Linked DNA regions of Homo sapiens. The protein of the gene in region 1 purifies or fractionates together with the protein of each later gene. This does not show direct contact. Each region holds a gene or a part of one and is shown in the gene's direction. Other genes may lie near its edges.

Region 1 (4,121 bases):
GGAAGGGACACTACTACAAGTTGTTGGGATTGATCCATTCTTTTCCCCAAAAAGAAGCAACTTGTTCTACACACATGTGTTGAGCAACTGGGCCAAGTACTGGGACAGATATCTAAGATGCCAAGATGTCCATTATCAGCTCACAATTGAGAAGATGGGACTGACAAGTAAACTGTGGGTGGCGGAGGAAAACATGCTAAATGGTTGGCACTATGTTGGAGGGAGGGAAGCAATGAGGGAGATACACAAAGGAAGAATAATTAGTGGACGTTTTCAGCAAATGTTTTCAGCAATGAAGAGAAAGTCATTTCTAGAAGCTTCACTTTCACAAGAACACAATATCTGTTTTCTTAAAATTAACGTCTTCTTCTTTCATTTATCCTCTTAGCCTTATTTATCATGTAATTCATATCTCTATAAATGGTAATCCACATCAATATAACAAACATACTTCTATGTTGTCATGTGCTTTTCCAATCTTTAGAGATTTTTCTTTTTCCTCCTTTTTTCCTTCCTTTCCTCCTTCCTTTCTTCCCTTCCTCCTTCCTTTCTTCCCAACCATCAATATAATATTAGTAATAAAAGCTAACACCTCTATAACGTTTAGCACATTACCAGGTACTGTTACTGTTTGCATGTATTCTTGTTTATGCATGTCAGTTAACACATGTGAACTCATAAATTCTACAACAATCCAACAAGGTAGGTAACATTATTACTTCTCATTTTGAAAATGGGGAAATGGATTCAGAGAGTTTGACTAGTTTGCCTGAGGACACACAGCTCATAAGCTATGGAGCATGCAGCAGTTCCAGGCAGTCTGGCTTTGAGTCTGTTCTACCCCTGATGTGGCCCTGTTCCTTCAACTGTAGGAGTCCCCATCACCAGACCTGGAAACTCCTCCCTCCATTCTCTCATTAGAGCTCTCCATAGATCTTGCCTTTTCTCATTGATTTGTCAACCACTCCAAAAATTTATATATTCAGTCTTAACCTTCAGTTTTGCTCCAGTTCCATGTCACCAATGACTACTGTACATCTTCATGCCACCTACCTCTTAGTTACTAAGTTTGAGACTCCAGAATTAACCTTGGCTTCTCGATTTCTTTACCCTGTGTATCCTCTCTCGTAACCTTCAAATGCTTCTCATTGCCTCTCCTAACCACTGCCACCACAATGGAGGCAAGAAGGTACTAAATGGGTGTGTCGTTTTCAAGAGTTAATGTGACCACTGGGAGAATGGTCTCCTCTCCCCTCACTGGAATACCCACCCAGCCATTTGGCCAGGAGGCTGGTCAAACCCATAGAAAGCCATGGTGAGTGCCCTTCAAAACACGGGGTTGGCACTCACTTTCCCACAACTCCAATGCTGCTTCCATTGTCTCAGCCTCTTTCTTTTCCAACTGGCTGCTGATTTTTTATTTCCACAACATGCAGTCACTATGGTTTCAGACATCAACAAAAGGCATATGTCCCAATTGCAGTAGGAGGTCTTTAACTGGTTCCAAGATTCCTTTGCTGCTGTGGAGGCTAATGAGTCTACAATAGGTTTCCTCTTTCAGTGCCATAACCCTACCAGAGAAACCAGCCACAGCCCATTAGCACATTCTGAAACTATGACACGGTCTCCTTTCAGCACACAGGGAGCCCCCTACCTGCAACAGCAGATAACCTGTGCCTTCTCTTGCTCCTGAAAAAAACATTGATTAACTTTCACAAAACTGTTTAGATCCATGCCAATATCGTGCACTCTGAGGCAATAGAACAAGTTGAAAAATTGTGATAAACATTCATTTGAAATGCAGCCAAGCTGACTTTTAAAAGCCTTGCACATTGTTATTTGATAGCTTCTTCCTGCTTTGGTTGGTAAAATGAACTCTTTAAGTGGGCAATTCATGATGTCGCAATAGAATAGTGAATGAACTAAAAAGAAAATGTTCACAATATAAGCTTAAAAAGCAAGTTGCAAAAGGATGTGTAAATATGGTACATTATACCATTTAAAAATTAATTATGAATATGATCAGAATACCATATTTCCAATGGGTATATAGGGGTGAAGACACATTTCATGCTTTTTTTTGTTTGTTTTTTCTCAAATTTTCTACAATAAACATATTATCTTAGAAATCAGATTTTTTAAACAAATATTATTAAGAAAAAATGACTATAACAAAAATAAGTGGGTGATTCCATTCTAAGGAAAATAGAGTTTCCAGCATATTCTGGTATTCTGTAGCAGAGAATTATTGTTTGGGGCAACTCGCTTGAACACTGGGCTTTATTTTGTCATCTGCTAAATTAAGGGTTGAACCAATATGTCTGAGGTACCTTCTGATGTTAATAAATCTTAGGGTCCAGAGTTTGGAAAAGTTAAGACTGTGAAGGCTATGTCACCCCAATGGGTAGGCATGATAAGACTGTTTGCTATATGACCATTCTGTGCCTAGGATTTTTTTTTTTTTAATTTGTAAAATGAGAGGTTTGGACAAGGTAGTCTCACGGGCCTGTGTCCCCCAGGTCTGACATTCTGTGGTTCTGCAGCTCCTACTAGAGCTCAGAAATGGCTTTGGAACTGTTAGTGGCTTAAAGACAAAATATGCCATCTCTTATCATGAATGTTAGGGAATGAACGAAAGATGCCAAGGCTACCGAAGTCATGTCATTAAAGAATCAATGTTTGAAAATCCTGTTTCTAACCATCTTCGAGCAGGGCAAAGACAAACACAAGCACATATCTGATCTGGAAAACTGCCTGTCCTCTGTGAAAATTACCAGCTTCAGGGGCTATGACTTCTACGGTCTTAAGGTATCTTTCAAACTGTTAACTATGGGGTTTGACTTTTTCTTTTCGTTTTTTGGTGGGGTGGGGAAGGTCGGGTCAGTATTTTAAGCTGCCAGATTACTGCCTTGTTTATAGTAAGAGCAAAATGCAAGAGAGGAACCCAGGACTGAGCAGGGCCTGCTCTCCTCAAACACACTGAAAGCTGGGGAAAGTCGTTTTATCTTAAATAAGGTAACAAATGTGAGAGCACTTCATAGGCCAGGAAGCCTCTACAAATGTTAAAAGTGGGTGTTACTACTCTTCGTCTCTCTGGGCCTGGATTTCCTCATTTGAAACGTTAAGTTGTTTTTGATAAGACAATTTCTAAAGGTCTCTTTGCACTCTAAAGCTCTCACTTCATGCTTCTTCAGTAGTTAATTTCAATAAGTTTTGCCAACGGAACCTGGAATCAGACTTCCCAGTCCTGGGTTTAGGGTTCTTTGAGTTTTTTTTGTCAATAAACTGAAAAAGACTCATGATATTCTCAAGCATAATTCAAAACATCATCAATCTGAATTGATTTGAATCTTAAACTAGAAATAATGCACATTGTGCATTTCATGCTGCATATTAGGAGGAATTGGCATCCCGGAGCCCCACAGAGAGAAGCTGTGGCTTGGGTCACTTGGGGAGTCACTGTCAAGAGGGATGCCCAGGGTCTGAAGCAGGAAATCATGATTTCGGGGGTTGCTTGGTCCTTTGGAACTGCAAGCCAAAGCAAATAGCCAACAGGTCAATCCACTGAGGTGGAAATGTTTTGTTCTCTCTTTTTCCCTCATGTACAGGATAAGACCTGGGATGAAGTCTTGGAAACACATCACAAACTCCCGACCGATCAATTAGACCTGAAAAAGCAGCAAGAGGCCGTGTGGGAACTTTTCACAAGTGAATGCACCTATTTTTTGGACCATTTATTAGTTCTTAAGATGGTAATGCCAGGCTTAATTTTTGTAGTAGATGGAAAATATTAATTTGTTTTTTTGGGCACTTGTTTTCCTCTTCTGAAAGAAATAAAGAAAAGAAAGAGAGAAAAGAAAGAAAGAGAAAGAGAGACAAAGAGAAAGAAAGGAAGGAAGGAAAGGAAGGAAGACAAGAAAAGAAAAAGAGAGAAAGAGAAGAAGAGGGAGGGAAGGAAGGAGGGAGGAAGGGAGGGAGGGAGGAAGGAAGGAAGGAAGGAAGGGAAAGAGAGGGAACGGGAGGCCAGGTGAGGCTTTTTTCTCCCTCTTTCAGGGGATCGTGAAAATTTTTATTTGTCATTTATTTTTGTTTACCTATTACTCTACTGTCTCTTTATACTT
Region 2 (4,121 bases), on another chromosome or scaffold:
CCCGAGAAGACGTGGGTGAGGAAGCCCAGGCCCTTGTCCATGGACCTCACGGCCCGGTTTGAGAACAAAGAGGCCTTGCTGAGGAAGGTGGCCGATGAAGGAAGTGGACCCACAGCAGGGGATATGGCTGGGCTAGAGAGGCCCAGAGCAGCGTCCAAGCTGGACAGGGACTGTTTGGTCAAGGCGGAGGCTCCTCTTCATGATCCTGATTTGGACTTCCTGGAGGTGGCCAAGAAAATCCGTGAACGGAAGGAGAAGATGCTTTCGAAGCCGGAGATGGGCAGCCCCAGAGCCCTGGTGGGGGGCTCATCTGGGGTCACCCCCAGCAATGACCAGAGTCCCTGGGAAGAAAAGGCCAAGCTGGACCCAGAGCCAGAGAAGGCTGCTGAGTCCCCCTCACCCAGGCTGGGAAGGGGCCTAGAACTTGCTGAGGTTAAGAGCAGAGTGGCGGATGGGGAGGCCGCGGCAGGGGGAGAGTGGGCCTCCAGGAGGAGTGTCAGGAAGTGCATCAGCCTGTTTCGGGAGGACAGCACCTTGGCCTTGGCAGTGGGGTCTGAATCTCCCCTGGCCACCCCTGCGTCCCCATCGGCGGCACCAGAGCCGGAGAAAGGGGTTGTGAGCGTTCAGGAACGGATCAGAGGCTGGACTGCCGAGAGCTCAGAGGCTAAGCCCGAGGTCAGGAGGAGGACGTTCCAGGCTCGGCCGCTGTCGGCGGATTTGACCAAATTGTAAGTAGGCACATCCCACACCCCTCTCTCAGCCGCCCACCCACACACCCTGAGGAAGACGGAACCAGGCTCCATGCTGGGCACTTGTCACCCCCCCTCAGTTTACCCATAGCCCAAGAGGAGGTAGTGGCAGTGTCCATTTCTCAGATGAGAAAGGTGAGGTGCGGAGAGGCAGTGCAGCTCTCCTCTGGGTATGGCCAGCCGGGGGGCCCGGAGCCCAATTTTCATGGCTTTTCTCAGCTTCAGATGTAGTGTGTGAGTGAAGTGGGCGGTATGTGCCCATTTCATGGAGGCAGGGCAGAAGGGTGAAATACTGTGGGGAGGTGGGAGCTGGATGGCATTCCAGCTCAGCCTGTCTCCATAGCTAAGCCTTTCTTCCCTGAAGTCAGAGAGAGAACGCTTAAGATTGGGCCTAAGCCTTTATGAGTGGCCCAAAAAATAAACTCAGAGGAGTCAAGGTAACTTGGGCTAGTCAGTTGGTTAATACTGATATTCTACGTCATTTGGTTAATAATGATATTCTAAGTCAGTTCGTTAATACTGATACTCTTAAGTCAGTTGGTTAATAATGATACTCTAAGTCAGTTGGTTAATACCGATGTTGTCAATCAGTTGGTTAATACCGATGTTCTAAGTCAGCTGGTTAATACCGATGTTCTAAGTCATTTGGTTAATAATGATGTTCTAAGTCAGTTGGTTAATAATGATGTTCTAGGCCGGGCGCGGTGGCTCATGCCTGTAATCCCAGCACTTCGGGAGGCCGAGGCGGGTGGATCACAAGGTCAGGAGTTTGAGACCAGCCTGGCCAACATGGTAAAACTCTGTCTCTACTAAAAATACAAAAATTAGCCAGGCGTGGTGGCAGGCGCCTGTAGTCCCAGCTACTCAGGAGGCTGAGGCAGGAGAATCGCTTGAACTCGGGAGGCAGAGGTTGCAGTGAGCCGAGATCACACCACTCCACTCCAGCCTGGACAACAGAGCAAGACTCCGTCTCAAAAAAAAAACACCAAAAAACAAAAACAAAAAAGATATTCTTAGTCATTTGGTTAATACTGATGTTCTAAGTCAGTTGGTTAATACTGATGTTCTAAGTTAGTTAATAATGATATTCTAAGTCAGATGGCTAATAATGATATTCTAAGTCGGTTGGTTAATAATGATATTCTAAACTTGGCCCACTTCCGACATCTCTTCTTTGTTTTCCCACAAGTGGCCACAACAGAGAGATGCCACTCGGCATGATCGACTGGCTCTTAATGGCATGCATGCCACTGACATACTTTGTCCAGGGTGGAGCTTGCAAAGGCAGGATCTCTGGGCAGACTGCCCTCCCGGCCCTGGGAACCAGGACAGCCAGCCAAGCCAAAGCTAGACCACTGGCCCTCAGTACTTTAGAATAACCGGAAAAAATACCAGTGCCTGGGCCCCACCCCTAGAGATTCCGATTCACTTGGTCTGGGGAGGGTGTTCTATTTTGGTAGTTTTTATTTTATTTTTTATTTTTATTTATTTATTTATTTTTGTGACCCAGGCTGGAGTGCAGTGTTGCAATCTCGGCCCACTGCAACCTCCACCTCCCGGGTTCAAGTGATTCTCCTGCCTCAGCCTCCGCAGTAGCTGGGATTACAGGCACGCGCCACCACACCCAGCTAATTTTTTTTTTTTTTTTTTTTTTTGAGACGGAGTCTCGCTCTGCCGCTGAGGCCAGAGCAGTGGCACGATCTTGGCTCGCTGCAAGCTCCGCCTCCCAGGTTCACGCCATTCTCCTGCCTCAGCCTCCCAAGTAGCTGGGACTACAGGCGTCAGCCACCACGCCCAGCTAATTTTTTGCATTTTTAGTAGAGATGAGGTTTCACCGTGTTAGTCAGGATGGTCTCGATCTCCTGACCTCGTGATCCGCCCGCCTCAGCCTTCCAAAGTGCTGGGATTACAGGCGTGAGCCACCACGCCCGGCCTAATTTTTGTATTTTTAGTAGAGACGGGGTTTCACCATGTTAGTCAGGCTGTTCTCGAACTTCTGACCTCATGATCTGCCCGCCTCAGCCTCCCAAAGTGCTGGGATTACAGGCATGAGCCACGGCACCCGGCCTGTATTTTGGTAGTTTTTAAAAGCTTCCAAGTCGATCTTATGTGTAGCCGGGGCTGACAACCCCTGAATTAAGATATCAGAGAAGGACACCTATGCCACGGTCCTAATATGCTTCCTCTCACTATGTCATGGAAGAGCCTTGGAGAGGCCGTGTGATTATCCCCATCTGACAGGTGGGGAAACTGAGGCTCTGAGTTTAGACAGAACTCCTCTCAGCCTCACATATCCCAGGAGACAGACCCTGGGTTGCTGAGTATGGGTTAAGTTTAAGTGGTTTGATTTCTCTCCCTTTCCTTTTCTTCAGTCCCCAGCTTTGAACTAAACACGTGCTACATCTTCAGGTATTTACACCAGAATGCTCTCCAGAGATGGAAAGATTCTAGCTCCACACCCTCTTCCCTTTTTGAGGTGGGGAAAACGAGGCCCAAAGAGGGCCCTGGTGATCCAGAGAGGCAGAGACAGACCTGGGCCCCCACACATTCCCTGACAGCCCACTACCCTTCAGTCTGGGGGCTGCTCTGAGGTGGGGCTGCTGTTTTACCTGGCACTGCTAACAACAGCCATTCATTATCCCTCCTGGGGCATCTTCACTCTTCCCTAAACGCCCTCACGTAGCTATTAGGGCCTTGAGTAGCCTCTTATCTGCCCCATAAAAGGGATGGGGAGGTGTTAATTATCCCTGTTTTATAGATGAAGAAACAGAGGCTCAGGTGAGGTCACAAGCCTAAACCAAGCTCCCCCAGTGAAGAGGCAGTAGAGCTGGGACTAGCACCTGGGTGTCTTCCCCCAGCTGGGGCTCCTCCACCCCAGTAATGCTGTGTTTGAGGTAGGCTCTCCCCACTGGGCAGTTCTCCTTTTGGTAAGTGGAAAGGAAATGTCCTTTCTGAAGGTTACTTGGCCTGGCCTCCTGAGCTGGTGTGTGGGCTGGGGGGAATAACAGCTTCCAGCTCCATGAAGGTAACTCAGATCTCTGTACCAGGTTTTCAAGTTCAGCTTCCAGCAACGAAGTCAAATATGAGAAGAGTGCTGAGCTGAGCGGCGAGTTTCCTAAGGAACCGAGAGAAAAGGTAAGGAGTGGCTGTGTAGCACGTCTCTCATTAACCAGCGGGCAGTTATGGCTGCTGGAGAAAGAGCCTCCATGATCTTCTAGGCCCCAGGAAGACTCAGAAACATGTCATGCACACGATAAAACATTTTTTCTTCTAATGTTGGGACTTTGAAGTCCCTTTTGGCATGAAGAGTTGTGATTCCCTACTCCCAGGTGTTAAATGCTGTTTACAAATGTTATCAGGCATTTTTTTTCT
Region 3 (4,121 bases), on another chromosome or scaffold:
CACCATGCCTGGCTAATTTTTGTATTTTTAGTAGAGACGCGTTTCACCATGTTGACCAGGCTGGTCTCAAACTCGTGAGCTCAAGTGGTCCACCCTCCTTGGCCCCCGCAAACTGCTGGGATTACAGGCACGAGCCACCGTGCCCAGCCAAGAGAGGGAGAGCATGTCAAGCTGAGGGCACAGAAGTGTGTGCAAAGGCAGAAGACGACATGGGACACTTGGGCTGGGCATGGTTCAGAGCAGGAGGCAGTTGGAGTTCAGAGACTGGCAGGGTTAGCATTCCTGTGTGAGAACCCGTTCGGCTCCTTCATCAGCCTGTAGCCTTGTGGAGTAGCCCCACCTCCGAGGTGGAGTGGATGCACCTGGTGCCTCCCCCATGGGTGGTCATGAGGCCGTTTAGCAATAGTAGCTTGAGTTGTAGCAGCCAGGTCCTGTGCCAGCTCTTTGCTTATTGGAGGATGTCCATGGGAAGGGCTTACTCCAAAGAGCCTGGCAGGCACAAGGGCTTCAGGAATTGGGTTCTCACTGTGAAGATGTTTGCTGAATCATGGCAATGTGAAGTAGGGAGCAGAAGCAGAAGGAGAGTGGGGAGAACTGATGGACAGGTGAATGGAGGCCAAACCTCAGGAAGGCCTGAGCCTTGGGGCACTTTCCTCTTTTTTTCAGCCCCCTCCTGTGTCATGTCCTCACTATCTACCAGGACCTGTGCCTTGTAGGATCTCATTGTAGCCTCCTAACATCCCTTTTGAGTTGATGTTTAAGAGTCTCATTTTATAGAAGAGCAAACTGAGGTTCAGAGACCATGCCCAGAGCATAGCACCCTTGGTAGGGAGAAGCAGAGCCAGGCATTGAAATGAGTGTATCTGCTGCCTAGCCCTCTGCTGTCTTCCCCTCTACTCTCCTGTCTGCATTGATTGGCCCCTCGTTTTATATGGGTATTCCTCCTCCCCACCCCCAATCTCCTTCCAGGTCCAGGAGCTGATCATCAACAAAGACCCCACACTACTGGACAACTTCCTGGATGTGAGTGACTGACAGAAGAGAAAGGGGTGTGGTGTAGGGGAAAGGGGATGTGGATCCTTGTGTAGCCCTGATCCACTTTCTCTCTAACATTGGCAGGAGATCATCGCATTCCAAGCAGACAAGTCAATCGAAGTGCGAAAATTTGTCATCGGCTTCATCGAGGAGGCATGGTATGGGGCGAGGCACGGAGCCCCGGGAGCATTCTCACTGGTGGCAGCCTTCAGCTCGTGGCCTGGCCTGGAGGCCACCACTGAGAGGCCTGCCCTCTGCTTCCCAGACCCTTTCTCTCTCTCATACACACTGATTCCCCAGCAAATACTTAATAAGATGGAAACCCTGGGGTCATCTGTGATTCCTCTGCTTCTTCCACACTTCACATCTACATTATCACTAAGGACTGTGGGCTCCACTTTGAGAATATCTGTAGCATCTGACCGTTTGTCAATCACTTCCTCTGCCACTATGCAGGCCCAAGCCACCCTTTCCTCCTACCTGATGACTTCAGTGGTCTCTCTCTGGCTCCCTTCTTTTTCTTTTTAGTTAAATTGAAATTCATATAACAAAATTAGCTTTTTTTTTTAATCTTTTGTTTGTTTGTTTGTTTTGAGACGGAGTCTCGCTCAACTGTTGTCCAGGCTTGAGTGCAGTGGCGCAATCTCGGCTCACTGCAACCTCCGACTTCCGGGTTCAAGCTATTCTCCTGCCTCAGCCTCCCAAGTAGCTGGGATTACAGGCATGCGCCACCACATCCGGCTTATTTTTGTATTTTTAGTAGAGAAGGGGTTTTGCAATGTTGGCCAGGCTGGTCTCAAACTCCTGACCTCAGGTGATCTGCCCGCCTTGGCCTCCCAAAGTGTTGGGATTACAGGTGTGAGTCACTGTGCCTGGCCTTTTTTTTTTTTTTGAGACTGAGTTTTGCTCTGTTGTCCAGGCTGGAGTACAGTGGCGCAATCTTGGCTCATTACAACCTCCACCTCCCAGGCTCAAGAGATTCTTGTGCCTCAGCCTCCTTGAATAGCTGGGATTACAGGTGCGTGCCACCATGCCTGGCTAATTTTTGTATTTTTAGTAGAGATGGGGTTTCTGCCATGTTGGCCAGGCCAGTCTTGAACTCCTGACCTCAAGTGATTGGCCCACCTTGGCCTCCCAAAGTGCGGGGATTACAGGCATGAGCCACGACGCCCAGCAAAAATCAGCTATTTTAAAGTGAACAAGTGAGTGGCATTTAGCACGTTCACAATCTCGTTCCAGGGCATTTCATCCCCCAAAGAGGAATCACCGCACTCATTTCCCGCTTCCACTCTTGCACTCAGCAGCCAGAGTGACGCTGTTAAATGTAAATCAGTCTTGGCACACCCCTGCTCTCAGACCCCAGCTGGCTCATCAGCTTACTTAGGTGGAAACCCAAACTCTCACTTCGGCTTCATCTCACTTCTGATCCTCTCTGTCTCCCCTGCTCCTCAGAAGTCACAGTTGGATTTCGCAGCCTGTCTGCTTGCTGTTCCTGCTAGGGGCCCTCGTCCCCAGGTTGCCACCTGGCTCTCCCCTCCCTTCCCTCAGGTCTCTTCCTCAGAAATTCCTTCCTGCCCGCTCCCATGCAGCCCCATGTCTCAGGCACCCCACCTTCACTGTTCTTTACAGTGTTCCTCACTCATTGAAATAACCTTGATTCTTCCCGCAAAATATCAGCTCTGTGAGGACGGGGCTTGACTTTTTCTGTCTTGCTGGCCACTTTGTCCCCAGTACCTGCCTGGAGCAGTGTTGTCACCTAGTAGGGGCTGACTACGTATTTGTTGCACACGTGAATGAGTTGAACATAACAGTCACCACATGGAACACGTACTGTGCCCTGCGCTGTGTCAGGTCCTTTCCCGTGTTATCTCCGTAATTATGGCAGCCTCGATGGATACTGTGGTTATCCTCTTTTTACAGAAAGGGAAACAGGCTCAGAATGGTCAAGTGACTTGTTCAAGCTGGTCACTTGCTCATTTGTTTATTAAAGCTTTACTGGATGCTTTGTGACTGGGAGGAAGTAGACTAGCTACTGTGTATTAAATATTTGTTTGTAAGGCACTGTATTAAATGCTTGAGCAGCTTCATTATTCGTAATACTATGGATCAGTTGTTTGACCCTTTAACTGAAGAGAAAACAGTCTCAGAGAGGTGAAGTGAATTTTCTTAAGGTCACACAGCCAGAATGTGGCAAGGCTGGGATTTTATTTATTTATTATTTTTTTGAGATGGAATCTCACTCTGTCGGCCAGACTGGGGTGCAGTGGTGCAATCTCGGCTGACTACAACCTCTGCCTCCTGAGTCAAGTGATTGTCCTCCCTCAGCCCCCCCGAGTATCTGGGATTACAGGTGCCTGCCACCACACCCAGCTAATTTTGTTTTCTGTTGTTGTTTTTTTTTGTTTTTGTTTTTGTTTTTGTTTTGAGATGGAGTTTCGCTCTTGTTGCCCAGGCTGGAGTGCAATGGTGCGATCTCGGCTAACTGCAACCTCCACCACACAGGTTCAAGTGATTCTCCTGCCTCAGCCTCCCAAGTAGCTGGAGTTACAGGTGCCCGCCACCATGCCCGGCCAATTTTGTATTTTTAGTAGAGATGGGGTTTCACCACGTTGGTCAAGCTGGTCTCAAACTCCTGACCTCAGGTGACCCACCTGCCTCAGCCTCCCAAAGTGCTGGGATTACAGGCGTGAGCCACTGCGCCTGGCCAAGGCTGGGATTTTAACTCATGTCTGCAATGCCAGAACCCAAATATCCTATCTCCCCATTTACTGGGAGAATTTGTGGTAAATTTTCTGAATTTGTAAAAAGTCCATTCAGCAAATACATACCATGTGACTGCTGTCGTACCAGGCATCCATGTTAGGCTGTAGTATAGCAGTGAGCAAAAACGTATTATTCCTGCCTTCATGTAGCTGACAGCTAAGTTTCATATTTTTTGACTGATTTAATTAATATTTCAGATTGTAATGTATGCTGTGAAAATTCTGTGCTGAGCTCCTATTTATTCATTGAACATTTGTTGGAGGCCCTTCATTTTTTTCTTCAATGAAAATGACCCTGCTGGGGTTATTGCCAAGCTAGGAAAG
Region 4 (4,121 bases), on another chromosome or scaffold:
GGCAATTGCACAGACTACAGAGAAGGGATGGGGGAGGAATCATGGCCTCCTTTCTCAGTTCTGTCAGCTCAACAAGCTCAGATTCACACTTTTCTTTGAAGAGTGACCTCTAGAATGGAACCTGGCTCTATGGGTGGGACTTGGCCATGTCCCTGGGACTATGGGGCCTTCACTTCTCTTCTGAATACTGTAATTAATAATGAGGAAGCTGTGGTCCTGTAAGAGGATGTGTCTTGCCAAAGATCATGGAGTTAGCTGGTGACAGAAGCAGGACTCATGTCCAGGCCTCCTGTCTGCTAACCCACTGTGCTTCACTGTGTGTAACTACATTGGCCAGGATGCTTCTGGTTGCAGGTGACAGAAACCACAGTTCAATCTAGCTTAAGGCAAATGAGATGCCCTGGCTCACAGAACTGCTCCAGACAGGAGGAGAGATGGCCACAGGCACAGTTGAGGTCAGGATTGCAAACAGTGTTGTCGGGACTCCCCATCTCTCTCTCCCTCTCTCTTTTATTTTCCCTCACTTTTTAATCGCTGTGAGTTCCTTAAGATGGTAGGGGTGGGGTGGGGTGGGGAGTGGCCTCCAGCAGCTCTGGATACAGATCCATGTATTTCAGGATCCAAGGGGAAAAGTCTGGGATTGGCTGGTCCTAGGTAACTCACCTACAAGTGGGAGCAGGTGGAGGAAGGGGTCAACCTTCTTCTCCGCTTTCCCCCACAGAAGCCTGTGTTGTGGGGAAGGGCAGTTCCCAAAGTAAAGAGGAAGGTCTTTATCAGAAGAAGGGGGAAGGCATGCCGGGCAGGCAGGTGGTAATAGCAGGTCACACTCATGCTCAGCAGTTGGGTTTCTGCAGTTTCTTCCTGTATTTGCAACTGGTGGGTGCTGACAGAAAAAGGCATTATGACAAGAAAAGTATGATATACGTGGGAATGAAAGTGACTTAACCTTTAAAAAGGAAACAAATCTCTCCCTTTTCTCTCCTTCTCCCCCTCAGGTCGAAATTGTGGTATATAGATTCCTGGCATGTGATAGGAATTTCTGCTCATTCAGTATTTTCAACCATACAGATAACCTCTGGTCTGTTTTGATCAGAGACTGCAATTTGGATCACTAGCACAGAACTTCAGTTTTCTTTCTTTTACTATTTGGGTCATTTTCCATATTGCCTGGGGATTCCAGGTGTTTCTGTCCTTCAGATATGTGAGTGTGGGTTTAATTAGTGATATGATTTTTTTTTTAAAGGCCTGAAACATTCTTTACAGTGAAAGCTACCTGCAAGGTAAACTTTTGTCGGTGTTTTTAGCCCTCTAGCTTGATTTCTTAGTGTTTTGCCAAATTGTGAGAGGAACCCGGCCTCTGGGGGCAATTGTTAAATCTCTTACTGCGCTAGTTGGCTTATGTGGTCTTTCAGGTCAGGTGAGTACAGCCTGACCACTTGCCAGTCGTGTGACCTTGGGCAAAACTGGACCTTAATTTTTTCATCTGTAAAATGGGTCACTGTGAGGCTGGGCAAGGCTACGTGTGTGAAAATGCTTTGATGCCTCAGAGCTCTGTGGGAGTGAAAGATGACATTTTCTTTGCATTGCTGTGTTTTCATGTAAAGCGGTTGGCTCGCATCTGTGCTGCTGGCTTCAGTGCAGTGAGTCAGTCGCTATTGGTTGTTCCATGTCCTGTTGAGGACAGCCACTTTCTCACAGGGCATGTCACCTCTGTGCCTCGATTTTCTCTCCTCAAAGACAAGTCGGCTAGTCCCTGTTCTGCCTTCTCATCACACCATGGTTGTGAGGCTCTGATATAATAAAAACCATTTGTGCTTGTAATCCCAGCACTTTGGGAGGCCAAGGCGGGTGGATCACCTGAGGTCAGGAGTTCAAGACCAGCCTGGCCAACATGGTGAAAACCCGTCTCTACTAAAAATACAAAAATTAGCCAGGCATGGTGGCATGCGCCTAAATAATCCTAGCTACTAGGGAGGCTGAGGCAGGAGAATTGCTTGAACCCAGAAGGGCAAAGTTTGCAGTGAGCCGAGATCGCGCCACTGCACTCCAGCCTGGGTGACAGAGCAAGACTCTGTCTCAAAAAAAAAAATAAATAAAAAATAAAAACCATTTGTAAGTTGTCAAAGCACTTATAGAAGTGTAAGGTATTGTTAGTACTACACAGAGAACATCATTTTTCTAGGCTGTAATTTATAAATCTCATGTTCAGCTTTACTTTTCTGAGTCACTTTGCTTCACTCAAAAGTACACTATTTTCTAGATTTAAAACTACCAACATGAAATTGATTGAATGTTTGAAAAGCCTATGCTGTAAGATAAATATTTCACATATTTCTCCCGGCTGGGTGTGGTGGCTCATGCCTGTAATCCTAGCACTTTGGGAGGCTAAGGCGGGTGGGTCACTCGAGCCCAGGAATTCGAGACTAGCCTGGGAAACATGGCAAAACCCTGTCTACACGCGCGCGCACACACACACACACACACACACACACACACACACACACACACACAAAAGCCGGGCCTGGTGGCATGTGCCTGTAGTCCCAGCTACATAGGAGGCTGAGGTGGGAGGATCACTTGAACCTGGGAGGTTGCAGTGAGCTGAGATTGCACCACTGCACTCCAGCCTGGGTGACAGAGTGAGACCCCATCTCACAAAAAAAAAAAGAAGTATTTCTTCCATATAATTTTAATAGAGTAAAATTCCATTAAATGGTAGAGAATAGTAAGCTTAACTAACACCTAGAATCTTCAACTTTGTTTGAGAAAATTGGGTGATTCATTTAAAATTAACCTGGAATCTAATCTTATTTCCTAGTTGTCAGTCGCTATTTCAGTTCTTACATAAAATGTGAAGGTAACCAAAGAGTCTAGTTAGTTCATCTAAAAAAAGAAGTGTTATCATATTCCTATTCAGTGCTAATTTTTTCACTGAGATCCTATGATATAACGTTTTGTAATCCATGCTATTTTTTTTAGTCCCACAGGATCACATGTTGAATGGTGTAAACAGCTTATAGCTGCTACAATTTCTAGTCAGATTTCAGGTTCAGTGACATCAGAAAATGTGTCCAGAGATTACAAGGTAAGCAACATTGAGTGTTTAATTCATTTTCAGTATGCTAAGTAGCCAAGAAGCTTTGCAGTTTTAATTCAAGTGAGCTGTTGGCCTTTTGATGCAACATGGCCATTTGCTCGAGAATAAGGATGAAAGGTTCTCTGTTGTTAGATCTGAAATGTAGAAGAGAAATTTTACCAGTATCCAGTACATGTAGTCATAGTTTTGTAATTGAAAGGAGAAGCTGTCTTTAGATGACAATGATTCTTTTAAAAATCAAGTTCCATTTTATAATAATAAATGCATATAGCTTCTTTGTTAGTATTGTGAGTTTCAGGAAATATCTTGATGTACAATACTTCCCTAACTTCACAATTTTTTAATTTATGTATTATCTGTGAGTATTCAGCATTAACATGTGATACTAGAATGTATAAAAACCCTTCCAGAATCTCAAAAGAGTATTGTATGGGCAGCCTCATTTTTCAGTCCTTACTGAAGTGAAAATCTCTTTTTGTTCATTTTAAAAGTTAGATTCCCTGCTTATTCTAAATTTAAGTGATAAGCTCCTTGTCAGCAGAGACTAGGGCAGTTTTACCACTGGCTTCCCAGGCACAATCCTGGAGCATAACAGTTGCTCAATAAATATTGAATCAATTAACAAATCAAAAAAATCGCTTGTTCCATCTTTGTTAAGGCTAAAGACTAACTTTGTTTTAATGTCAATAAACTATTAATAGGTATATTAAATGAAATCACATTTATATTTCAGTACTGATGTTTGCCTAAGTTGAGGTTTCTGTTTATTAGTGGTCATTTTTCCTGCTAGTAAGAGATGATTGATTTTTCACAAGTGTGTGTAAAATGCATTTGGTATCCCAGACTACCATTAGTTAATAGTCTCTCAATATCATGGTCCTTGCCAGACATCAAATCTTACAAATATCAAGAATTACAGTAAAGATCCTAATTAATTCTTAATAGGTACTCCTTGTTTAGGAGCTTTATCTTCAGTTCCTCTTTAGAGCTCATAGGGTAATAACAAGTGCAGAAACAGGCTCAG
Region 5 (3,500 bases), on another chromosome or scaffold:
CAGTTGACTTCAACCACAAGAGGGAGATGTAGGTATATCAAGAGAAAAGCTAAAGGCAATGCAATTGGTATTATTTTATTCTTTGGAGAAAAAATAAGAAACACAGTTTTTGTTTTGGTTACCAGAAATTTAGAGCAACTTAAAACCGTCAAATAGGGAGTGTTTTCAAAATTAATTATTTGCATAGTAAGGGGGAAAGTATGGTATAAGACATAAGAGATTTTAAAAATTTATAGGTTAAGTATACACTCTACAAAACGGGTATCTCCCTGGAGATGTTGCAAAGGAGATGAATTTTTTACGTATCAAATTACATGTTCTTGACCTGCTATTTAACACAACTTTGTGGATGGGTTGTTCTTTTGTTTTGTAACGTGATATGGTTTGGCTCTGTGTCCCCACCCAAATCTCATCTTATAGCTCCCATAATTCCCACATGTTGTGGGTGGGACCCGGTGGGAGATGATTGAATTATGAGGTTGGGTCTTTCCCGTGCTGTTCTTGTGATAGTGAATGGGTTTCACGAGATCTGATAGTTTTAGAAACAGGAGTTGCCTTGCACATAATGTAATTACCATCTAATATAACTGCCCTGTATGTTTAAAGTTAGTCCCTTTGAAAGGGAACTCAATTCTAGTTATGATTTTACACACTTCATGTGGCACTCAGAGCATTACTATATAATATTTTGGTGTTTAGTCTCTTACAGGCTCGTTTTGTTTTATCTGTACATTAAGTTCATAGCTATTTTGTGTTACATTACAATAGTCTCAGGATCTTTATATTAAGAAATATTTAAGACAAATAGACTGAATTTTAGACACTTATAACCATAGATTAATGAGGAAAGGATGGCTATGTTGCAGGGCAAAAGAGTGAGGGTCGTGATCAACTCAGTATACCACTGGAGGCTATATGAGTAAACAGCAAACTGTTCGCATAAACGCAGAAAATTGGCAAACTGACAAACTGTGTCTGCCACCCAGAAGGAATGCTGAGGGCAGTCAGGCCTCAGGTGCAGGTGTTTCTTGTGATTAGACACATCTGAAGCCTGTTAGCAGTAATGTGAACCTGTGATCAATTAAGCAGCTGACCAATTGTTACCTCGTCCTCCCTGCTCTTTCTACCCAATAAATATGAAGGGCTGTAGAAGCTGAAGGCAGCTCCCTTTGCTCACTAGAAGCAGGGAGCTCTCTTCTTCTTCTCCTGACCCCTTCCTTTAAAATAGTTACTTTTGTTTTAAGTTTTCATTTCTGCATTCGTCCTCCTTCGTTCAGTCTCGTAGTAACCGTGGCAAACTGCAGCATGGCTATTTGAGTAAATGGTATTGAAGGATTCAACCATTTTGGAAAAAAATCAATTTGTGTCCTTTTAATTATATAACAAAAGAAATTTCAGATGGATTAGAACTAAATAGAAATGAAGCAATATTGGTGAGTCTGATCTCTGATTTGGAAAAGACTTTGTAAGCATAAAAATAATGAACCAAGTTACAAAGTAAAAGTTTGATAGATTTGATGACATACAGGTTCAAATGTCTGAAACAACAAATAAAAAAAAAAATCAAAGTAGGAAAATATTTGCAGCAAGTTGCCCAAAAACTTACAACATATATATAAGATCAAGTATTAATTTATTAATAAAAATATACCAGTTGCAAGATGGACAAAAGTTATAAAGTCAAAAGAGAAAATTTAAATGATCTTTTTTTGTTAGATACCATTAAAATTATTATTATTCTTATTTATATTTTTATGTATTTTTTTGAAACAGAGTCTCACTCTGTCACCGAGGCTGGAGGCACAATCACGGCTCACTGTAGTGTCGACCTCCCAGCTTCAAGCAATCTTCCCATTTTAGCCTCCCAAGTAGCTAGGACTACAGGTGCGCTCTAACATGCCTGGCTATTTTTGTAATTTTAGTAGAGATGAGGTTTTGCCATGCTGCCCAGGCTGGTCTTGAACTACTGGGCTCCAGTGATCTGCCCACCTCTGTCTCCCAAAGTGTTGGGATTACAGGCATGAGCCACTGCACTAGTCCAAAATTATTTTTAAATGGTGATTTTCTTCTGGGAAGTATGTAGAATTGGTCAGTCTTTTTGATTGAACTTTTCTGGATGAGGTTAAATCTTGCTGGAAAGCCTTTTAGCAGTACTATGTATTAACAGTAAATACATTTTTAGGAATGTGACCTAAAGAAACAATCAGAAATGCAATTGAAGCTTTTGTAAAAAATGTTCTTTGGAAGATTATAATGGCAAAAATAAGTGACCGAAATATCAGTAAAGGGAAAGGATCAAATACAGTGTAGACACAATAAAATGTTTTTATAACTGTTAAACATTTAGTTTAGAAAAAAATTTTTATGTCCTGGGTAAAAACCAGGATATAGAACTGAGCGTATAGGAATGTATATGGGATATCAGCTTTGTAAAATACATATGTATATCAGTACTTACCATAAGACAGGGCAAAAAGAAAAATAAAAAAAATACATATGTGCATAGAAAAACTTATATGGTTAGCAGGATGTACACCAAAATATTATGTCAGTTATCTCTGAGTAATGGTACTCTGGAAGATTTTTATTTTCTTCTTTATACTTTTTTGAAGTTACTGGATTTCTTATCAATGAGCATGTCTACTTTTATAGTTAGAGGAGGGAACACCTTATAAATGAAGCTGCTTATTTTTTAAGTAAGAGAAGCTATTATTGTTTACTTGAAATGATATAAAATATTCCTCTTCTTAAACTTTCTTATAGCCATTTAAATGGATGTTCCCTGGAAATGCTAAGCAGGCCTTCCCTACTTATCACAGATTCATTCAATGCTACATATGTACAGCCTAGAAGAAAACAGAGAGATGAGCAGCTTCTGAGTACGTATTCTTTCACGTCCTTATTATTATTATTATTTTGTAACTTTTTGTATATTTAGGGAATATAAGTACATAAAAGTACAGGTTTCTTTTTTTTTTTGAGACGGACTTTCGCTCTTTCACCCAGGCTGGAGTGAAGTGGCGCGATCTCGGCTCACTGTAACTTCCGCCTCCTGGGTTCAAGTGATTCTTGTGCCTCAGCCTCCCGAGTAGCTGGGATTACAGGTGTGCACCACCACGCCCAGCTAATTTTTGTATTTTTAGTGGAGACAGGGTTTCTCCATGTTGGCCAGGCTGGTCTTGAATTTCTGACCTCAGGTGATCCACCTGCCTTGGCCTCCCAAAGTGCTGGGATTACAGGCATGAGCCACCACGCCCGGCCACAAGTATAGGTTTCTTAATGCATACGTTGCACAGTGGTGAAGTTTGGCCTTTTACTGTATCCGTCTCCAGAATCGTGAATGTTGTACCCAATGTATAATGTCCTTTTCAAGGAGCTGTGGAAATGCATGGTAGTGGGAATGACTGTATTCTGTTTAGCACTTTTCTTGGTCATAAGAGATTGGTTAACTTTAGTATTTTTGAAAAAAATATTATGTGACCATCAGTTTTTGTATAAGA
Region 6 (4,121 bases), on another chromosome or scaffold:
TAGAGACGAGGTTTCACCACGTTGTTTCAGGCTGGTCTCAAACTCTTGACCTCATGATCCACTTGCCTTGGCCTCTCAAAGTGCTGGGATTACAGGAGTGAGCCACCGCGCCTGACTGAAATAAATTTTAAAAAATGAAAATATTATGTCACTCCTCTGCTTAAAGCTCTTCAGAGGCTTCCTGTAGGTCTTCGTGTAAAGCCAAACTTTTTACCATGGCATACAAGCTGTATCTGGGTGGCTCTTGTCTACTGCTGTAGCCTCATCTGGTGTCCCTTGACCTCTTGCTGGCTGCATCCTGGCCTTGCTTGTCATCTCTGGATTCCTTTGACATGCGCTACTTCTTTCTTCCTTAAGGCCTTTGGCTGTCTTGTTCCCTCTTCCTTGATAGTTCCTCCTCTTTCTCCTTTTCTTCCTCCTCCTCTTCCTCTTCTTTCTCCTCATCATCACTCTTGTCAATCAGGGATGCTGCTGTATCTCTTATGTCAAGCCCTGTGCCTTGCATTTGGTAGGTACTCAATAAATACTTGTTGAATGGATGAATGCTGCATATTGGAACTTAAGTTCACTGGGCACAGTGGCTCACACCTGTAATCCCAGCATTTTGGGAGGCCAAGGCAGGTGGATCACTTGAGGTCAAGAGTTCAAGACCAGCTTGGCCAACGTGGTGAAACCCCATCTCTACTAAAAGTAGAAAAATTAGCCGGGCACGGTGATGCACGTCTATAATCCCAGCAACTCAGGAGGCTGAGGCACGAGAATTGCTTGATCCTGGGAGGCGGAGGCTGCAGTGAGCCCCTGCACTCCAGCCTGGGCAACAGAATGAGACTGTCTCAAAAAAAAAAAAAAAAAAAAAAAAAGGAAGTTAAGTTCAAGTCCAGCCCCTTATAAGTTACATTGCCATGGCAAGTTATTTGATCTCTCTAGGCTTCAGTTTCCTCATCTGTGAAATGGTATCATAAGGCCTCTTGCAGAATTCTCATTGTGATTTTCAATAAAGTATCTAAAGTGTATTACCCAGTGCTTAGCAGGTCTTCAACAAGGAGAATTTCTGTGCTTTTATCATTGTAGCTCATATTTTATCATTGTGGGAGTATGTAGGCTTCTCACTTTTCTCCTGTCTCTGGCTCTCTTTGCTTAGGGCAGCATCTCATCACGGCAGTTGCTGACCATCTATTTAAGCTGAAGACAACATCATGGTGAGTGGGAGGCATAAGACTAACTGTAGGCAGGCCCATCCCAGCACTGGGAGGGAGGCGGAGGTGGGAGAATTGCTTGAGCCGGGGAGATTAAGGCTGTGGTGAGCTGTGATTGCCACCAAATGGCAGCATGGGTGACAGCGAGCTTGTCTTAAAAAAAAAAAAAAAAAAGGCCAGGCGCAGTGGCTCACGCTTGTAATCCCAGCACTTTGGGAGGCCGAGGCGGGCGGATCACGAGGTCAGGAGATCGAGACCATCCTGGCTAACACGGTGAAACCCCGTCTCTACTAAAAATACAAAAAATTAGCCGGGCGTGGTGGCGGGCGCCTGTAGTCCCAGCTACTCGGGAGGCTGAGGCAGGTGAATGGCGTGAACCCGGGAGGCGGAGCTTGCAGTGAGCCGAGATCGCGCCACTGCACTCCAGCCTGGGCGACAGAGCGAGACTCCGTCTCAAAAAAAAAAAAAAAAAAAAAAAAAGTGGTGAGAGGGTATGCTTGTTCCAGTTTTTAGAGGAAAAGCTTTCAGCTTTTTCTTGTTCAGTAAGATATGTTATCTGTGGCCACTGTACTTCTGACAGGGAGTTAGGGAGATTTCGGAGTGCGATTGAGCTGGACACCCCCTCTATGACTGCAGAGCAAGTAGCTGCCATTGAGCAGAGCGTCAATGAAAAAATCAGAGATCGGCTGCCTGTGAATGTCCGAGAACTGAGCCTGGATGATCCTGAGGTGGAGCAGGTAAGGGTAGAGCCAGAGGGATGGTTTCTGCGGAATGATTCCTCATCAGATTCAGACAGTCCCTCCCCTCTCCTTGAGTCCAGGTGAGTGGCCGGGGTTTGCCTGATGATCATGCTGGGCCCATTCGGGTTGTTAACATCGAGGGCGTTGATTCCAACATGTGCTGTGGGACCCATGTGAGCAATCTCAGTGACCTTCAGGTAAGTGAGGAACGGCTGTGGAGTGGCTGAGAAGAGGGATTGGGGGAGAGGGGATCACATGGGGCTGGGAGTGGGAGAGGGGGATAATCGAGGAGTCCTAAGTGAAATCTCCCCTTCACTGTTTCAGAGCTGAGGAACAGATAGGTTTCTCCTGCCTTCAGGTTCTAGGATCCGCTGTGGTTTATGCATGTGCACACGTGTGTGTGTGTGTTACCCCCTTGCCTCATGTAGGTCATTAAGATTCTGGGCACTGAGAAGGGGAAAAAGAACAGAACCAACCTGATATTTCTGTCTGGGAACCGGGTGCTGAAGTGGATGGAGAGAAGTCATGGAACTGAAAAAGCACTGACTGCTCTGCTTAAGTATGCCTGTTTCAGTACCTTCGATTACCTCCCATTTCTGAGATTTTCGACATAATCTCTTACCTCTGGGAGATAAGATGCAATCGTAAATGATAAAGTGCGGCCAGGCGTGGTGGCCCACATCTGTAATCCCAGCACTTTGGGAGGCCGAGGTGGGCGGATCACGAGGTCAGGAGATCAAGACCTTCCTGGCTAACACCGTGAAACCCCGTCTCTACTAAAAATACAAAAAGAACTTAGCCAGGCATGGTGGTGGGCGCCTGTAGTCCCAGCTACTCGAGAGGCTGAGGCAGGAGAATGGCGTGAACCCGGGAGGTGGAGCTTGCAGTGAGCCAAGATCGTTCCACTGCACTCCAGCCTGGGCGATAGAGCAAGACTCTGTCTCAAAAAAAAAAAAAAAAAAAAGATCAAGTGCTTTGGATAGTAAATCAGAACCACGAAAAGTGGTTAATTCCTTTGTATGTTTTCTCCCAGTTGCCTAAGAGACCTCCTCAGAATATCTCCTGGTCCCTGACTGCAGGGAGGCACCATAGCAAGAAGGAAATTATTGATTTATGTCCCCAACATCAGAAACGACTGGGAAGCTGCGCAGGTCTCCTCTGACCTTTCTCTTTCAGGTGTGGAGCAGAGGATCATGTGGAAGCAGTGAAAAAGCTCCAGAACTCCACCAAGATCCTGCAGAAGGTGATTTATTCCATGGAGGGTAGAGAGGGCATGGGCCCTGCCTAGGATAGGCTCTGCAGACTTGGTCTTCTGCCTAAACAGATGTGTAGTTTGTCAAAGTGGGAGTGAGGGGAGAATGAGGTGGAGGGAAGCTGATACTCTCTATTGTTATCCTTTCCATTTATCTACTGAGTTACCATATCCATTTCAGAATAACCTGAATCTGCTCAGAGACCTGGCTGTGCACATTGCCCATAGCCTCAGGAACAGTCCAGACTGGGGAGGTGTGGTCATATTACACAGGTGAGAAATTAGGAGCTGGACACAAGGAAGGGGAACTGTGTTGGGCTTAGGGCTCAGTGTCTTCTCTATATGCAATGTACAGTGGGAGGTGGATTGCTCACTGGTATTCTCAAGGTTGAGTAGATCCTAAGAAATATGTTACTGGCCGGGCGCGGTGGCTCACGCCTGTAATCCCAGCACTTTGGGAGGCTGAGGCGGGTGGATCACAAGGTCAGGAGTTCGAAACCAGCCTGGCCAGCATGGTGAAACCCCTTCTCTACTAAAAGTACAAAAATTAGCTAGGCATGGTAGTACGCGCCTGTAGTCCCAGCTACTCAGGAGGCTGAGGCAGGAGAATCACTTGAACCCGGGAGGCAGAGGTTGTGGTGAGTGGAGATCACGCCACAGCACTCCGGCCTGGACCAACAGAGTGAGACCCCATCTCAAAAATATAAAAAAAAAAAGAAATATGTTACATACCAGGCCTCCTGGGTTTGATATTAACATATTTACTGTAACTCTGTATCTTTTGTTTTTTGTGTTTTTTTTGAGATGGAGTCTTAGTGTGTCTGGAGTGCAGTGGCATGATCTCGGCTCAGTGTAACCTGTGCCTCCTGGGTCCAAGCGGTTCTCGTGCTTCAGCCTCCCGAGTAGCTGGGGGATCACAGGCATGTGCCACCA
Region 7 (4,121 bases), on another chromosome or scaffold:
TCCCTGCACATAGGGCCTTGTTTTGGACATTTACTACCAGGGCACTGAGGCAGAGATTCAGCGGTGTGTCAGGCCTGATGGGCGGGTGCCACTGGTATGGCTGCTGGGCCCAGGTTGCGGGGCTTTGGGGACCTTATGGGACAGGGAGGGAGGGTCTGACTTCCTTCGATTCCTTCTAGAAGCCTCCAGGACAAGCTAGAGCTAGAATCTGAGGACAGGGTAGCCTTGGAATTCAGGGTCTTGTCCTGAGCCAGAAAGCCTAGAACCAGGCGGGCACGGTGGCTAACGCCTGTAATCCCAGCACTTTAGGAGGCTGAGGCGGGTGGATCAGTTGAGGTCAGGAGTTCGAGACCAGTCTGGGCAACGTGGTGAAACCCTGTCTCTACTAAATACAACAATTAGCTGAGCATGGTGGTGTGTGCCTGTAATCCCAACTACTTGAGAGGTAGAGGCTCGAGAATCGCTTGAACCCAGGAGGCGGAGGTTGCGGTGAGCAGAGATCGTGCCACTGCACTTCAGCCAGGGTGACAGAGCGAGACTCTGAATCAATCCCCTGCCCGCTGTAAAACAAAACAAAGCAAACCTCAAAAACTCAAACGAAAAAAGAAAGCCTAGAACCAGAATGTGAGCAAGTTAGGGAGTGCGGTTGGGAGGAGGCCTAGAGCCAGACTCCGGGAATGCTTCCATCATGAGGGGCAAGGATTGGAGAGGCATGGAGATCTGGGAGTGGACCATGGCGAGGGTGGAGAACTGGGTTCAGGAGAAGGCCTGACAGTTGAGGGTGTCCCAGAAGGTGTCTTGGTGGGAGCTACCCCAAGTAAGCCTGGAGTCTGGCTGCTGGAGTGGTCAGAAGGTGACACTCCCTGCCTGGTATGGCACTCAGCTTCATGTGGCCCATCTGCATGTGCCCTCCCTGACTTGTACCAGGGCCTGGTCCAGGGCCCTCCATCTCTGATCCTTTTGGGGTCCCTTCCAGGTCTCTGGGGTTGTCTTCTTCTCTGTGGAGACTGCCGAGCGCCTCCTAGCCACCCACGTGAGCCCGCCCCTGGATGCCTGCACCTACCTAGGCTTGGACTCCGGAGCCCGGCCTGTCCAGGTGACTGGGGGAGGGCAGCTAGGTGGGGCCTGGCTTGGGGGCGAGGCACTGTGTGACCTCAGGCCAGCCACTTCCCCTCTCTGGGGCAGAGTCTCCGCAGACGGGACTGCCCTGGTTCAGCCTCAGAACTTGGGGGCTGAACCCCTGCCATGCCAATAGCTGTGCTTCTTCCCCTTCCCCTAGCTGTCTCTGTTTTTTGACATTCTCCACTGCATGGCTGAGAACGTGACCAGGGAGGACTTCCTGGTGGGGAGGCCCCCAGAGTTGGGGCAAGGCGATGCAGATGTAGCGGGTTATCTGCAGAGCGCCCGGGCCCAGCTGTGGAGGGAGCTTCGCGATCAGCCCCTTACCATGGGTGGGTACTGCCTCTCAGCTCCCTGGGGTGGGGAGACCATGGGAGTGAGGACCCCAAGAATGGAGCTGCTCACTGCATGCTGGGCCAGGCAGCCCAGCACAGGGACTGGGCAGTTCTCCTGTCCTGTGCCAGAGCCCCCCACTGAGCTACCTCCTTCCCCTTCTTGTCTTCCTTTTGTCTCATTCCTGGGCTCTCCCAGCCTGTCCACTTTTGTTTCTGTTTTTTTTTGTTTGTTTGTTTTGTTTTTTGAGACGGACTCTCTCTTTGTCGCCCCGGCTAGAGTGAGGTGGTGCGATCTCAGCTCACTGCAACCTCCGCCTCCTGGGTTCAAGCAATTCTCCTGCCTCAGCCTCCTGCGTACCTGGGATAATAGCCATGCATCATCACACTTGGCTAATTTTTCTATTTTTAGTTGGTCAGGCTGGTCTTGAACTCCTGGCCTCAGGTGACCCGCCTGCCTTGGCCTCCCGAAGTGCTGGGCTTACAGGCATGAGCCACCATGCCCGGCCCTAACCTGTCTGCTTTCTTTTTTTTTTTTTGAGACAGAGTATGGCTCTGTTGCCCAGGCTGGAGTGCAGTGGCGTAATTTCGGCTCACTGCAACCTCTGCGTCTCAGGTTCAAGCGATTCTCCTGCCTCAGCTGCCTGAGTAGCTGGGATTACAGGTGCGTGGCACCATGCCTGGCTAATTTTTGTATTTTTAGTAAAGATGGGATTTCACCATGTTGGTCAGGCTGGTCTCGAACTCCTGACCTCGTGATCTGCCTGCCTCGGCCTCCCAAAGTGCTGGGATTACAGGCGTGAGCCACTGTGCCCGGCCAACCTGTCTACTTTCTAGCTGTGTTGTGTGGCTTTGGGCAGGTTCCTGACTCAGCTTCCCCTAACAGGCTCATGGCCACACCTGCCCCCATGTGTCTCTGCTGCTGGGAGGCAGCCTGGCCCCTGAGTCGCAGCAGGCATGGGGTTGGGTTCAGTACTTATGTCTTTACAGCCTATGTCTCCAGCGGCAGCTACAGCTACATGACCTCCTCAGCCAGTGAGTTCCTGCTCAGCCTCACACTCCCCGGGGCTCCTGGGGCCCAGATTGTGCACTCCCAGGTGGAGGTGAGACCTCCCTGCCCCTCCGGTGCCTGCTGGTTGTCTGGGGTCAGGTGGGATGTGGATTCCCGGGAAGAAAATAGCCGGCACTTGGAACAGATGACCCGAGTGCAGGTGTTACCCTGGTTTACACATGAAGTGCTGGAGGCTCAGAGAGGCTAAGTAACTTGCCTAAGGCCACAGAGCCAGTAAGTGGCCAACTCAGGATTCTGCATTGAGCTTGCCTGATTGAGAAGCTAAAGGAGACCTTTATTTGGGGTCTGCCTGGGGTGACAGTGGTGGGCCTGGGTCAGTGCCGTGCTGCTGAGGAAGGGGACAGGTAGGGTTCAGAGGTGGCCCCCAGGGTGGCAAGGTTGGGCGTAGTTGGACAGGTGGGATGGAAATAGGTCTCAGGCTGGGGCCAAGGCAGGTCCAGAGAGGAGTCTAGGGTGCTGCAGGGCAGGGGAGCAGTAGGCCTGGACGCTTTGCCCCTGGATGCTTGGCTTGGGAGGAGAGCTGGGGCAGCCCTGGGCCTCGACCCCCCTCATGCTCCTCCTACCTGGCTGCACAGGAGCAGCAGCTTCTGGCGGCCGGGAGCTCTGTGGTCAGCTGCCTGCTGGAGGGCCCTGTCCAGCTGGGTCCTGGGAGCGTCCTGCAGCACTGCCACCTGCAGGTGAGGCCTGAGCGTGTGGGCAGATTGGGGCGAGGGTGCTGGCATCCCGCATGTGTTGGGGGGTGTTGGGTGCCTGCCCACCCAGGATGCCTGCCCTGTCCCCCACCAGGGCCCCATTCACATAGGCGCTGGCTGCTTGGTGACTGGCCTGGATACAGCCCACTCCAAGGCCCTGCATGGCCGGGAGCTGCGTGACCTTGTCCTGCAGGGACACCACACGCGGCTACACGGCTCCCCGGGCCACGCCTTCACCCTCGTTGGCCGTCTGGACAGCTGGGAGGTAGGCAGTCACCCTGCATTCCCTCACCCCCATCTTCAGGCTTTGGGGAGCCCAAGGAGTCCTGGCCCCCACCCCACTGCGGGGTTCTCTGAGCACTGGCCCGTGGGACAGGCTGTGAGGAGGGTCGGATGTAGGGAGGAGAGAATGAGGGAGGAGATAGGGTGAAGATAGGCTGTGAGACCAGCAGAGTCTCCACAGGCCTTTACCTCCCTCCTTGCATCTGCTCTGCCAGGTGGGCTGGGTGGGGATTTTGTTTTTTTTCTGGAGATAGAGTCTTGCTCTATCACCAAGGCTGGAGTGCAGTGGCCCAATCTCAGCTCACTGCAATCTCTGCCTCCCAGGTTCAAGCGATTCTCCTGCCTCAGCCTCACGAATAGCTGGGACTACCAGCGTGCACCACCACGCCCAGCTTAGTAGAGATGGGGTTTCGCCATGCTAGTCTGGTTGGGTGGGGTTGTTGTTTTTTTTTTTTTTTTTGAGACTCACTCTGTCTCCCAGGCCGGAGTGCAGTGGCGCAATCTTGGCTCACTGCAAGCTCTGCCTCCCGGGTTCACGCCATTTTCCTGCCTCAGCCTCCTGAGTAGCTGGGAGTACAGGCGCCCACCACCACGCCTGGCAAATTTTTTTGTATTTTTTAGTAG

The links.
Region 2: the proteins of PLEKHG7 (region 1) and KIAA1671 purify together in Homo sapiens (affinity purification with mass spectrometry; one large-scale study listed by BioGRID and IntAct). This does not show direct contact.
Region 3: the proteins of PLEKHG7 (region 1) and SYMPK purify together in Homo sapiens (affinity purification with mass spectrometry; one large-scale study listed by BioGRID and IntAct). This does not show direct contact.
Region 4: the proteins of PLEKHG7 (region 1) and MTMR1 purify together in Homo sapiens (affinity purification with mass spectrometry; one large-scale study listed by BioGRID and IntAct). This does not show direct contact.
Region 5: the proteins of PLEKHG7 (region 1) and CPSF2 purify together in Homo sapiens (affinity purification with mass spectrometry, with the first as the bait; one large-scale study listed by BioGRID). This does not show direct contact.
Region 6: the proteins of PLEKHG7 (region 1) and AARSD1 purify together in Homo sapiens (affinity purification with mass spectrometry, with the first as the bait; 2 studies listed by BioGRID). This does not show direct contact.
Region 7: the proteins of PLEKHG7 (region 1) and FCSK purify together in Homo sapiens (affinity purification with mass spectrometry; one large-scale study listed by BioGRID and IntAct). This does not show direct contact.

Annotation. Positions count from the first base shown.
Region 1 is NC_000012.12:92,733,770-92,737,890, forward strand, and holds part of PLEKHG7 (pleckstrin homology domain-containing family G member 7), read left to right. Parts: intron 1-2,709; coding exon of another isoform or gene 2,710-2,712; coding exon 2,713-2,808; intron 2,809-3,608; coding exon 3,609-3,752; intron 3,753-4,121.
Region 2 is NC_000022.11:25,028,813-25,032,933, forward strand, and holds part of KIAA1671 (uncharacterized protein KIAA1671), read left to right. Parts: coding exon 1-728; intron 729-3,796; coding exon 3,797-3,884; intron 3,885-4,121.
Region 3 is NC_000019.10:45,849,384-45,853,504, reverse strand, and holds part of SYMPK (symplekin), read left to right. Parts: intron 1-969; coding exon 970-1,023; intron 1,024-1,119; coding exon 1,120-1,193; intron 1,194-4,121. UniProt on the Homo sapiens protein: Scaffold protein that functions as a component of a multimolecular complex involved in histone mRNA 3'-end processing. Specific component of the tight junction (TJ) plaque, but might not be an exclusively junctional component. May have a house-keeping rule.
Region 4 is NC_000023.11:150,696,216-150,700,336, forward strand, and holds part of MTMR1 (phosphatidylinositol-3-phosphate phosphatase MTMR1), read left to right. Parts: intron 1-2,979; coding exon 2,980-3,085; intron 3,086-4,121. UniProt on the Homo sapiens protein: Lipid phosphatase that specifically dephosphorylates the D-3 position of phosphatidylinositol 3-phosphate, generating phosphatidylinositol. Could also dephosphorylate phosphatidylinositol 3,5-bisphosphate to produce phosphatidylinositol 5-phosphate.
Region 5 is NC_000014.9:92,135,469-92,138,968, forward strand, and holds part of CPSF2 (cleavage and polyadenylation specificity factor subunit 2), read left to right. Parts: coding exon 1-28; intron 29-2,763; coding exon 2,764-2,879; intron 2,880-3,500. UniProt on the Homo sapiens protein: Component of the cleavage and polyadenylation specificity factor (CPSF) complex that play a key role in pre-mRNA 3'-end formation, recognizing the AAUAAA signal sequence and interacting with poly(A) polymerase and other factors to bring about cleavage and poly(A) addition.
Region 6 is NC_000017.11:42,954,216-42,958,336, reverse strand, and holds part of AARSD1 (alanyl-tRNA editing protein Aarsd1), read left to right. Parts: intron 1-1,141; coding exon 1,142-1,199; intron 1,200-1,776; coding exon 1,777-1,933; intron 1,934-2,016; coding exon 2,017-2,133; intron 2,134-2,364; coding exon 2,365-2,495; intron 2,496-3,112; coding exon 3,113-3,179; intron 3,180-3,369; coding exon 3,370-3,461; intron 3,462-4,121. Other genes in the region: PTGES3L-AARSD1 protein, read left to right, coding at 1,142-1,199, 1,777-1,933, 2,017-2,133, 2,365-2,495, 3,113-3,179, 3,370-3,461. UniProt on the Homo sapiens protein: Functions in trans to edit the amino acid moiety from incorrectly charged tRNA(Ala).
Region 7 is NC_000016.10:70,467,873-70,471,993, forward strand, and holds part of FCSK (L-fucose kinase), read left to right. Parts: intron 1-13; coding exon 14-94; intron 95-976; coding exon 977-1,096; intron 1,097-1,279; coding exon 1,280-1,451; intron 1,452-2,441; coding exon 2,442-2,554; intron 2,555-3,098; coding exon 3,099-3,200; intron 3,201-3,309; coding exon 3,310-3,480; intron 3,481-4,121.